Linked DNA regions of Homo sapiens: all the other regions are linked to region 2. Evidence: fine-mapped expression QTL. A gene starts in region 2. Each other region holds a variant in brackets. All regions are shown on one strand. Distances are from middle to middle.

Region 1 (2,684 bases), 130 kb after region 2:
AAACCCCGTCTCTACTAAAAATACAAAAATTAGCTGGGCGTGGTGGTGCGCACCTGTAGTCCCAGCTACTCAGGAGGCTGAGGCAGGAGAATGGCTTGAACCCGGGAGGCGGAGCTTGCAGTGAGCCAGGATTGCGCCACTGCACTCCAGCCTGGGTGACAGAGCGAGACTCCATCTCAAAAATAAATAAATAAAATAAAATAAAATAAAATAAAATAAAATAAAATAATTGGTGAGTTTAGAGCAAGCAGGGTCACGCTATGGCTGAGAGAGGGTCACTGGCCTATCTGCAACAGTCCATGCGGGCTGTGGGGTCAGCGGGACCAGTCAAGTGGGCTGTATGTAGCTGTCCCACAGGGAGGCAGTCACCGGGAGATGACTGTCTAAGGTAGATATCTGGATTGAGCACATAGAGGAACTGGGAGGAAGCAGGGAGCTGGAAACAGTGTCAAGGTTGACTGAGCCCTGCTTCTAATGTAAGAAAGTCCAGATTATATTCAAAACGGATGCCAGGGCAACATTAAAGTACAGGAATTCACTACACTCCCTCTGTGCCTGGGTCACTGTTTATGGTCCTCAGGAGGGGGGGCCCTGCTCATTGGCCTCTTCTGGTACTCGGGTGGGGTTGGGGTGGTCTGTAGCCCCATGAGGGCAGGATGGGGGCAAACCAAGTGTAGGGCGAGCATCCCCCTATGTCTTGGGAGGTACTGAGCTAGAGCTACAATGTGTGGATGGGGGGTGCTCCCCAATTAGTCTAGGCTGCGCCTTCTGCATTCCATTCTCTGCATGTCTGGAAGGCCTGAGCTCATGGGACAGACCCCACCCTGGCACCTGGTGGGCGGGGCATTGCTTTCAAGAGGTCACCTTTGTTTGGGAAAGGAAAAAACAAAGACGACATAGCTGGCTGGCGATTCTGAGTCTCACCTCCCAGGGTGTGGAGTGAGCCCAAACTCCTTGCCTCCCACATCTCCCCTGCCACCTTTCCCAGGGCCGGGAAACCCCCAGGAGGATCGAGACTCAGCTTCCACCCAACCCCTAGAAGACCTCTAATGGTCAGGCCTCCAGCCTTGGCTTGCATCCCTCCAGTGATGGGTAGCTCACTGCCCCCCAGAGAGTATTAGGTCATTAAAACAAAAACAAAAACAAAAACAGATTTTGGAGGTGGAACTGAGAGGCAGTGGCCTGGGGAAGCTGGAAGGACTGGATCATGAGCCAGAATTGCTAGGGCAGACACCACACCACTGACCCCACACCTGGAACAGTGTCTGGGGCTATGTCAGCTAATGGGGTAAGGTTCCAGGGAGGCAGATTCCAGCTCAATAAGAAGGGCCAGGCCGGGTGCGGTGGCTCACACCTGTAATCCCAGCACTTTGGGAGGCCAAGGCGGGAGAATCACGAGGTCAGGAGATCAAGACCATCCTGGCTAACATGGTGAAACCCCGTCTCTACTAAAAAAAAAAAAATACAAAAAAAATTAGCTGGGCATAGTGGTGGGCGCCTGTAGTCCCAGCTACTCAGGAGTCTGAGGCAGGAGAATGGCGTGAACCCAGGAGGCAGAGCTTGCAGTGAGC[C/T]GAGATGGCGCCACTGCACTCCAGCCTGGGCAACAGAGCGAGACTCCGTCTCAAAAAACAAAAAACAAAAAAACAAAAACAAGAAGGGCCAGCCATGGTGGCTCACCCCTGTAATCCCAGCACTTTGGGAGGCCAAGGCGGCTGGATCACTTGAGCCCAGGAGTTTGAGACCAGCCTGGACAACATGGTGAAAACCCATCTCTACAAAAAATACAAAAATTAGCTGGGTATGGTGGCGCACACCTGTAGTCCCAGCTGCTTGGGAGGCTGAGGTACGAGAAGTGCTTGAACCCAGGAGGTGGAGGTTGCAGTAAGCTGAGATTACACCACTGCACTGCAGCCTGAGTGACAGAGCAAGATCCTGTCTCAAAAAATAAAAAATGAAAAGAAGAAGGACTACAGACTTCCTCTCAGCAGAGCCAGGGGCCAGTGATAAGGTGTTTTGGGGGAGCTAATGAGTTCTTTGTCACTGGAGGAGTGCAAGTAGAGAGTAGCCCATCATCAGGACTGCCAGGGCTTCCGGAAGGTCCCCAGCTAAAGGGATAGGACCCTACCTACTCTGGAAGGATGACCAGGAAATGTATCCTGTCCCCAAATCCCAGCTGGCCTGTCTGAGATGGCTGGGGGGTGGGGGATGGGGAAGTGGAGCCTGGGGGTCACCTGCGCGTCCCACTTTCAGGAATACCCGCCTCTGGGCATCAGTAGTTTGCCCTTAGCTTCTTCCTCCAGCCACATTTCCATCTCGGCTGGTCCCCTGACTCAACCCCTTCTCACAGCCAGGTGAAGGCAGGACTGGGGTCAGATGCCAACTGTGCCTAGCATTGGATTAGGACACCCCTGTCTCCCTCAGACTCTTCAGGGCTGGACGCTGCCTACCTCTAGTGCCTTTTGGACCCAGGTGGGTGAGGCGGCCCTTCTGAGGGCCGCGGCTTGCTGCTGGGGTAAAGTGGCTGATGTCTGACAATAGACCTTCCCCTCTCGCCTGACCCTCCCAGGGAGAGTGGCTTCCCAGCCAGGCTCAGGCAGGGCCAGGCTGCTTCACAGGCAGTGGGGGTGCGCTCACAGGGAAGTGGGGTTTGGCGACACTGCCCAGGGGAGGTGTTTGGGGCCAGA
Region 2 (2,684 bases):
CCTTCCACCTGGATCGCTATTGGGATCCTCTATCTAACCTCCTGGCTGTCCTTCAAGATTCATTTCAAGTCACTCCTTCAAGAAGGCTTTCCTGCCTAGAGGTGTTGCTTCCTCATGGAGGATCTTACCCTGTCATTTTCTGTGTCCCTGTTTGTCTCAAGAACAGGGACGCATCTGATTTATCTCTGTATCCTGTGCACCTAAAATAGAAGAGGCTTGGTAAATATTAAGTGCCACGAGCCCTCTTTTACTAAGGACCTGCCAACATGGGCCCCATTCACACTAATACCATGAAGATAGCCCTTTTCTATACTTCGTCATAAAAAAGTAATACACACACCCGGGCAGCAACTTCCACACAAACAACACATGTGCAAGGAGATCACCATTATTTCCAGCAAAATGCTCCCCAGGGCCGAGCGTGGTGGCTCACTCCTGTAGTCCCAGCACTTTGGGAGGCCAAGGTGGGCGGATTGTTTGAGCCTAGGAGTTTGAGACCAGCCTGGGCAATAGAGTGAGAACCCGTCTCTACAAAAAATACAAACATTAGTCTGGCATGATGGTGCACTCCTGTAGTCCTGGCTACTCCATAGGCTGAGATAGGAGGATGGCTTAAGCCCAAAAGGTGGAGGTTGCAGTGAGTGGAGATAGCACCACTGCGCACTCCAGTCTGGGTGACAGAGCCAGACCCTGTCTCAAAAAAAAAAAAAAAAACAAAAAAAAAAACAGCTCCCCAACAAGATAGCAGGCTACAACATGCATGTGATGAAGCTGATTTGAAGCGCTCAGTGAGAGGTATCTGCATCAAGTTGCAGGAGGAGAAGAGAGAAAGGAGAGATAATCATGTTCCTGAGGTCTCAGCCCTGGATCAGGAAATCATTGAAGTATTAACATATCCTGACATTAAGGAAATGCTGATGTTTTTGGACTTTGGCAGTCTGTCCAACCTGCAGGTCACTCAGCCAACAGTGGGGATGAATTTCAAAACGCCACGTGGAAGCTGTTTGAATCTTTTTGAGATACTGTAATATTTTCAATAAACCTGGGACAACAGCAAAAAAAAAAAAAAAAAAAAAAAGGCCCCAAGCAACAAGCAGTGTGTGTGGGGCTGATAGGAGTGAGGAAAGGAGGTCGGACAGTTATGCCAGCCCCTATCGAGAGTCCCAGCAATACAAAGAACAGGGCCAGGGTTTGCTCCAGGATTTCCCCAGTGGACTACAACTCCCGGAAGGCAGAGAAGTGGACTACAGCTCCCAGAAGGCTGCGCGACATACAGCCAGCCCGGTGCTCTCGTGAGGCGTGCCAGTCAGATTCCGCGGGAGAGCGGCAGAGATACCGCGATATTTGGGAGCGGCCCCGAGACGCGCCTGGCGCGGGTGAGCAGTGGAAGGGGGCTGGGAAGCTGGGTTCTCGCGGCGGCGCGGGAGGGGAGGTTCGGGGAGCTGTGTCCGCGAGCGTGGGTCCACGGCTGTCTGTGTGTGTCCTTATTTTCCCCTGTGTGCCCATGAAGCTCTGTTTGCGACTGTGCGTGGGTAGGCGGCCGTCCATCTGTGCGACCTCACTTTCCCGGCTGTACGGGTGGGGCCGCCTGGAGCAGGAGGGACCCCCGAGCCCTGAGTGGAGGGTTTGCATCTGTACCCGTCCAGCCCGACTTTGTGCTGCTCTGCGATTATTTGTCCAGTGTCGTTTAATCTAGTTTAAATGATGGCCGTGTCAGCTCCTCACACTGAACGCTTACCCGGGCTGCCCAAAGTACAAAGTGTATTTAAAAAGTTGGTAAAATTAAAAAAGGAAAGCCATGGGATGTTGGAAGTAGCCCTAGGCCTGCCAAAAAGTGCTGAGTGCTATTTAAAAATTAGGCCAAATCTTGTCAGAAAAGAACTTCCTGCTGTCCTTGAAGTATTTGGAAGCAGGTGCTAGATGGTGAGCAGGAGAGGTTGCCAAGTTGGGGAAGTGGTGGTTGTCCTGGAGCAGGGGTTTCCACATCTCTCACAGTGGCTGGGAAGTAGCAATTCGCAGTCACTGCCTTTCTAGTAGCCCACGTGTGTGAGTGTGTGTGTTAGATACATTTATCCCTCAGTATCCGCAGGGGATTGCTGTATACTTTTTTTTTTTGAGACAAGGTCTCATTCTGTGACCCAGGCTGGAGTGCAGTGGCAGGAACATGGCTCACTGCAGCCTCGACCTCCTGGGCTCAAGGGATCCTCCTGCCTCAGCCTCCTGTGTAGCTGGAACCACAGGCATAAACAACCATACCCGGCTAATTTTTATTTTATTTCATTTTTGTAGAGACAGGGTCTCACCATGTTGCCCAGGCTGGTCTCAAACTCCTGGCTCAAGCTATCCTCCTTCCTTGGCCTCTCAAAATGCTGGGATTACAGGTGTGAGCCACCACATCACCCTCCTGTATACTCTTTTTTCTTTTCTTTTTTTTTTTTTGAGTCAGGGTCTCACTCTTGTCTCCCAGGCTGGAGTGTAGTGGTGCAATCATAGCTCACTGCATCTTCGAACTCCCTGGGCTCAGATAATCCTCCCACCTCAGCCTCCCAGGTAGCTGGGACTGCAGGCACGTGCCACCACGCCCTCCATATAATTTAAATAATCTCTAGATTACTTATAAAACCTGATACAGTGTAAATGCTATGTAAATAGCTACACACTTTTTTTTTTTTGTGGTACTATTA
Region 3 (2,684 bases), 35 kb after region 2:
CCAGCCTGGCCAACATGGTGAAACCCTGTCTCTACTAAAAATACAAAATTAGCCAGGTGTGGTGGTGCATGCCTGTAATCCCAGCTACTCAGGAGGCTGAGGCAGGAGAATTGCTTGAACCGGGGAGGAAGAGGTTGCAGTGAGCTGAGATCGTACCACTGCACTCCGGCCTGGGCAGTAGAATGAGACTCCATCTCAAAAAACAAAACAAAACAAAAACAATCTGTTCTGTGGTTCCTGGGCACTTTGTGGTGTGGGATTAGAAAAACAGATTGGTGGTGGCTCACGCCTGTAATCCCAGCACTTTGGGAGACCAAGGCGGGTGGATCACAAGGTCAGGAGTTTGAGACCAGCCTGGCCAACATGGCAAAACCCTGTCTCTACTTAAAAAATACGAAAATTAGCTGGGTGGTGGCAGGCGCCTGTAATCCCAGCTACTCGGGAGGCTGAGGCAGGAGAATCACTTGAACCTGGGAGGCAGAGGTTACAGTGAACCGAGATCGTGCCATTGCACTCCAACCTGGATGACAAGAGCAAGACTCCGTCTCAAACAAAAAAAAAAAAAGAAAAACAGATTGAGATACAGAACTGGGAAGATGGGAACAAATGGAGGAGTGAAGGAATCTTTTTGTTTTTTTTTTTTTGAGCCAGAGTCTCGCTCTGTCGCCCAGGCTGGAGTGCAGGGGCGCGATCTCGGCTCACTGCAAGCTCCGCCTCCCGGGTTCACACCATTCTCCTGTCTCAGCCTCCTAAGTAGCTGGGACTACAGGCACCCACCACCACGCCCAGCTAATTTTTTGTATTTTTAGTAGAGATGGCATTTCACCGTGTTAACCAGGATGGTCTCGATTTCCTGACCTTGTGATCTGCCCACCTCAGCCTCTCAAAGTGCTGGGATTACAGGCGTGAGCCACCGCGCCTGGCCAAGGTTTTTTTTTTTTTTTTTTGAGATGGAATCTTGCTCTGTCGCCAGGCTGGAGTGCAGTGGCGCAATCTCAGCTCACTGCAGCAATTGTGATTGAGGTTCTTTTTAAAGCCCTTTGCAATGTGTGATTCTCTGAGTGCAGCTGAGCAGGACTGAACTGTGTGGAGCCCTAGATAAGACTTGGGTTATGGGTACGTGTTACATGTTCTCCATATTGCCAAGTGTTTCTTTAATCTCATTTCACCCTCCTCACATAACAGCTTCACGATGGAGTCAATTAGCATATGTAGCTGTTTCATAGACAAGAAACTGAGGGCCGCACAGCCAGTGCAGTGTGCTAGGGTTTTCTCTTTCTGCCCTACAGCTACCTGCAAACAGGCTCCTGCACAGGACTTCTACCCTTATTTGCATTTACCTCCTTGGGGTCAGTTGAAACACCCCTTCCACCATACATCA[G/A]CATCCCCAGATGCCTGCCCTTTCAGTCCCAACTGGACAGCTCCTTCATTACCTTTTTCTGCTCATGGCTTCCTTCCTTCATGTATTGTGGTTTCTAGGGCAGGATGAAAATCCTAAGTGTCACGCAACTGCCTCTGAGCAAAGAAATCAACCCCAATAACTGACAAGTTGTTTACACTGAGAGCTTCCTGGTGGAACCAAATATTCTACAATATTTAAGCCAGGTTTGGTACCCCTTGCGGCAAGGCAATGGGAATGATCAGGCCAGAAGAACTACCAGTTGTCTCATAGCAAAGGAATGTGGGGAGTGGGTGGGTGTGAGGACAAGAGGCAGATATGTGAGCTTCAGGGCTTTTGGAGGACATGCAGCTAATCCAGGTGGAATCTGGGAGCATGTGTCGTTCCCTTGCTGCAATGGGCTCATTTCATGGTGGCTTTATCTGCTGAGATTACATGGTGATGCTTTGCCTGCTAGCCTAGACAGCAGGTCCTTAGGGACTGGAGGCCCAGCAGACTCCCTTTCAGGCCTCTGGATTCCTGGAAGAGGAAGGAGTGTTCAAAGGTGAATTAAAAGGTGCCTTCCATCTGTGTAGGCAAAACAATGTTACCAGCCATAGCGATGGACTTGGAAGCAGCCAACATGAGTTGAACATGAACACATGGATGCTGAAGATCCTTTCTTTCTCTCTTTAAATTTTCTTTTTTTTTTGAGATGGAGTCTCGCTCTGTCGCCCAGGCTGGAGTGCAGTGGCGCTATCTTGGCTCACTGCTAGCTCCGCCTTCTGGGTTCATGCCATTCTCCTGCCTCAGCCTCCCGAAGTAGCTGGACTACAGACACCGGCCGCCACGCCTGGCTAATTTTTGTTGTATTTTTAGTAGAGACGGGGTTTCACCGTGTTAGCCAGGATGGTCTCGATCTCCTGACCTCGTGATCCACCCGCCTCGGCCTCCCAAAGTGCTGGGATTACAGGTGTGAGCCACTGCACCCGGCCCTCTCTTTAAAATTAAAAAAAAGAAAGTTTTTTAACTTTAACTAGGTCCTGACCAGACATAAAATTTTTTTAATTAAAAAATTTTTTTGGCCAGGTGTGGTGGCTCACACCTATAATCCCAGTACTTTGGGAGGCCAAGGCAGATGAATCACAAGGTCAGGCGTTCAAGACCCACCTGGCCAAGACGGCGAAACCCCGTCTCTACTAAAAATAAAAAATTAGCTGGGCGTGGTGGCGAGTGCCTGTAATCCCAGCTGCTCAGGAGGCTGAGGCAGAGAATTGCTTGAACCCGGGAGGCAGAGGTTGCAGTG
Region 4 (2,684 bases), 74 kb before region 2:
AGAATCACCTGAACCTGGGAGTGGAGGTTGCAGTGAACCAAGATCGCGCCATTTTACTCCAGCCTGGGCAACAAAAGCGAAACTCCATCGCAGAAAAAGAAAAGAAAAAAGCATAGAGAAAAAAAATTATTGTCTAACAGTTCTGGAGATTAGAAGTCTGAGATCAAGTGGGGCAGGGCCATGCTCTCTGAAGACTCTAGGGAAGTATCTGTTCCATGCCTTTCTCTTAGCTTCTGTCATTTGCAACCTTCCTTGGCTTGCAGGTGTATAAATCCAACCTCTGCCTCCATATTCACATGGTATTCTTCCCTCTGTGTAATCAATCTCTGTCTCTTCTCTATTTTATAAGGATTCCTCATTGAATTAAATTGTATTGGATTAAGGGCCCATTTTACTTAATATGACCTCATCCTAATTTCTTAATTTAGATCTTTATTAAATCTGCTGAATCTCTTTTCTTTTTCTTTTTTTGAGACAGAATTTCGCTCTTGTTCCCCAGGCTGGAGTGCAATGGCTTGACCTTGGCTCACTGCAACCTCCACCTCCCAGGTTCAAGGGATTCTCCTGCCTCAGCTTCCCGAGTAGCTGGAATTACAGGCATGCACCACCATGCCCGGCTAATTTTGTATTTTTAGTAGAGACAGGGTTTCTCCATGTTGGTTAGGCGGGTCTCGAACTCCCAGCCTCAGGTGATCCACCCGCCTCGGCCTCCCAAAGTGCTAGGATTACAGGCGTGAGCCACCGTGCCCAGCCTTTTTTCCTTTTTTTTTTTCGAGACAGAGTCTCACTGTCACCCAGGCTGGAGTGCAGTAGCACAATCTGGTGGCTCACTGCAACTTCCACCTCCTGGGTTCAAGTCATTCTCCTGCCTTAGCCTCTTGAATAGCTGGGATTACAGGCATAAGTTACCACGCCTGGCCAATTTTTGTATTTTTGAAGAGATGGGGTTTCACAATGTTGGCCAGGCTGGTCTCAAACTCCTGACCTCAGGTGATCCACCTGCCTCGGCCTTCCAAAGTGCTGGGATTGATTACAGGCATGAGCCACCATGCCAAGCCAGAGTTTCCAAATAAGGTATCAGGGATTAGGACTTCAACATGTCTTGGTGGGGGGGCACG[A/C]AATTCAATTCATAGCACCTATAATATTCAGGTGTCAGAAACAACACTGGAATCCTCAAGCTGAATATACAAACCCAATTGCCATGGTGACCCTAGCTTCTCCAAAGGCAGGGGTACCCAAGGGCTCAGATGGGATGAGAAGCTGTGGAAGAGATAGGGGCAGCTTTGGCCATTGGTTGGATGGTTAAGAATTGTAATGTGACATCAGAACAGTTCAGAAACCTGGCTCAGAAAGTCTTTTGTTGGTTTGAAAGAGTGGAGTGATCATGGCTCACTGCAGACTGGACCTCCCAGACTCAAGCAATCCTCCCACCTCAGTCTCCTGAGTAACTGAACTGCAGGCACACACCACCACATCCAACTATTTAATTTTTTTTTTTTTTTTTTTTTTTTTTTTTTGTAGAGATGGTATCTCACTATGTTGCCAGGGCTAGACTCGGAACTCCTGGGCTCAAGTGATCAGCGCTCCTACCTTGGCCTCCCAAAATGCTGAGATTACAGGCATGACCCACTGTGCCTGGCCAGCGGCAAGTCCATTCAATCAACAACTCTCTAAGAGCTTCTCATGTGCCAGGAGCTGGGCAAGGAGCAAGGCAGGCAGGATCCAGTCAATCACGGGCTCATGGGTTAGTAGGGTGACCAATAGCCAAAAGATAAGACTAATGAGGACACACTTATAAACCAGTATCTGTGCTCTGAAAGGAAGAAACTTGATGCCTTTGAGGAGACCCTCCTGTGGCTGCATTTTCCTCCTCTTTCATTCTCCTTCCCTTCCTTCCTTTCCTTTGCCTTTCTAACTACCATTCTCTTGGAGACCTGCGAGTGTTTCAACATCTCAGTGAAATAGAGGGACGAGAGCATCACCTAGTGGTCAGTGTGGGCATAGCAATGACCAAAACTGAACTAATCAGCTTGGGAGATGAAGGGCAAGGGGTGGTGGGGGTAGGCAGTGTGTGTGTCTGGCCCAGGTATGCACCTAACAGTGAAGTGAATACACTCTGGCAGATTCATGGCAATGGACAACAGCTCTTAAAGATTTACCAATTTGAAGCTGGGTACTCCCACCTCCCACAAAAAATAATCACTCCATTGTTTGGTCCTGACATAGCACGTCCCCTGGGGTGCCAGAAAGGCAGACCAAGTCCTGGCCAGGCAGGGTTAATGCTCAAGGAGAACCCTCCCATTTCCTGGCTGTAATAGCAGTGAAATCCTACCTAGCCTGGGTAGCTCTCACATCTGCTCCCATCTCCCTCCGCATTGCCGATGTCTCATCTCTTATCCCTGCATTGTCTCTAGGGTCTAATCAGACCCCCTTCCAATCCACTCCCACTTACACAGGTGTCAGAGGGATCCTTCTCAAACACCAGTCAGATCTGGGCTCAGAGCACTCCCTGGCTCCCAGTGGCTCCCTCACTTCCCTGTGACCTGGCTCCCACCGGCTCCCTCACTTCCCTGTGACCTGGCTCCCACCTAGCACTCTAGTTCACCTGCATCTCTACACGTTACCCTCTGCCATCTCCTCTATCCATCAGACACCTGTGGCAGCCTCAGCATCATACACACCCG

Evidence for each region. PIP is the estimated chance that this variant, and not a neighbour inherited with it, causes the effect.
Region 1: its variant is fine-mapped to the expression of PPCDC in whole blood (TOPMed, PIP above 0.99).
Region 3: its variant is fine-mapped to the expression of PPCDC in whole blood (TOPMed, PIP above 0.99).
Region 4: its variant is fine-mapped to the expression of PPCDC in esophagus muscle (GTEx, PIP 0.99).

Annotation. Positions count from the first base shown.
Region 1 is chr15:75,156,063-75,158,746 of GRCh38, forward strand. No RefSeq gene overlaps it. Among named protein-coding and RNA genes, the nearest start is that of C15orf39, 44 kb to the right of the region's middle. RefSeq lists enhancers at 432-933, 934-1,433, 2,139-2,639, 2,640-2,684. The variant C/T (reference allele first, on the strand shown) is at 1,572.
Region 2 is chr15:75,022,251-75,024,934 of GRCh38, forward strand. It overlaps PPCDC (phosphopantothenoylcysteine decarboxylase), which reads left to right and starts at 1,340. Exons shown (of 6, transcript NM_021823.5): 1 at 1,340-1,376.
Region 3 is chr15:75,056,849-75,059,532 of GRCh38, forward strand. No RefSeq gene overlaps it. Among named protein-coding and RNA genes, the nearest start is that of PPCDC, 35 kb to the left of the region's middle. The variant G/A (reference allele first, on the strand shown) is at 1,382.
Region 4 is chr15:74,948,582-74,951,265 of GRCh38, forward strand. No RefSeq gene overlaps it. Among named protein-coding and RNA genes, the nearest start is that of RPP25, 6.8 kb to the right of the region's middle. RefSeq lists an enhancer at 2,106-2,155. The variant A/C (reference allele first, on the strand shown) is at 1,119.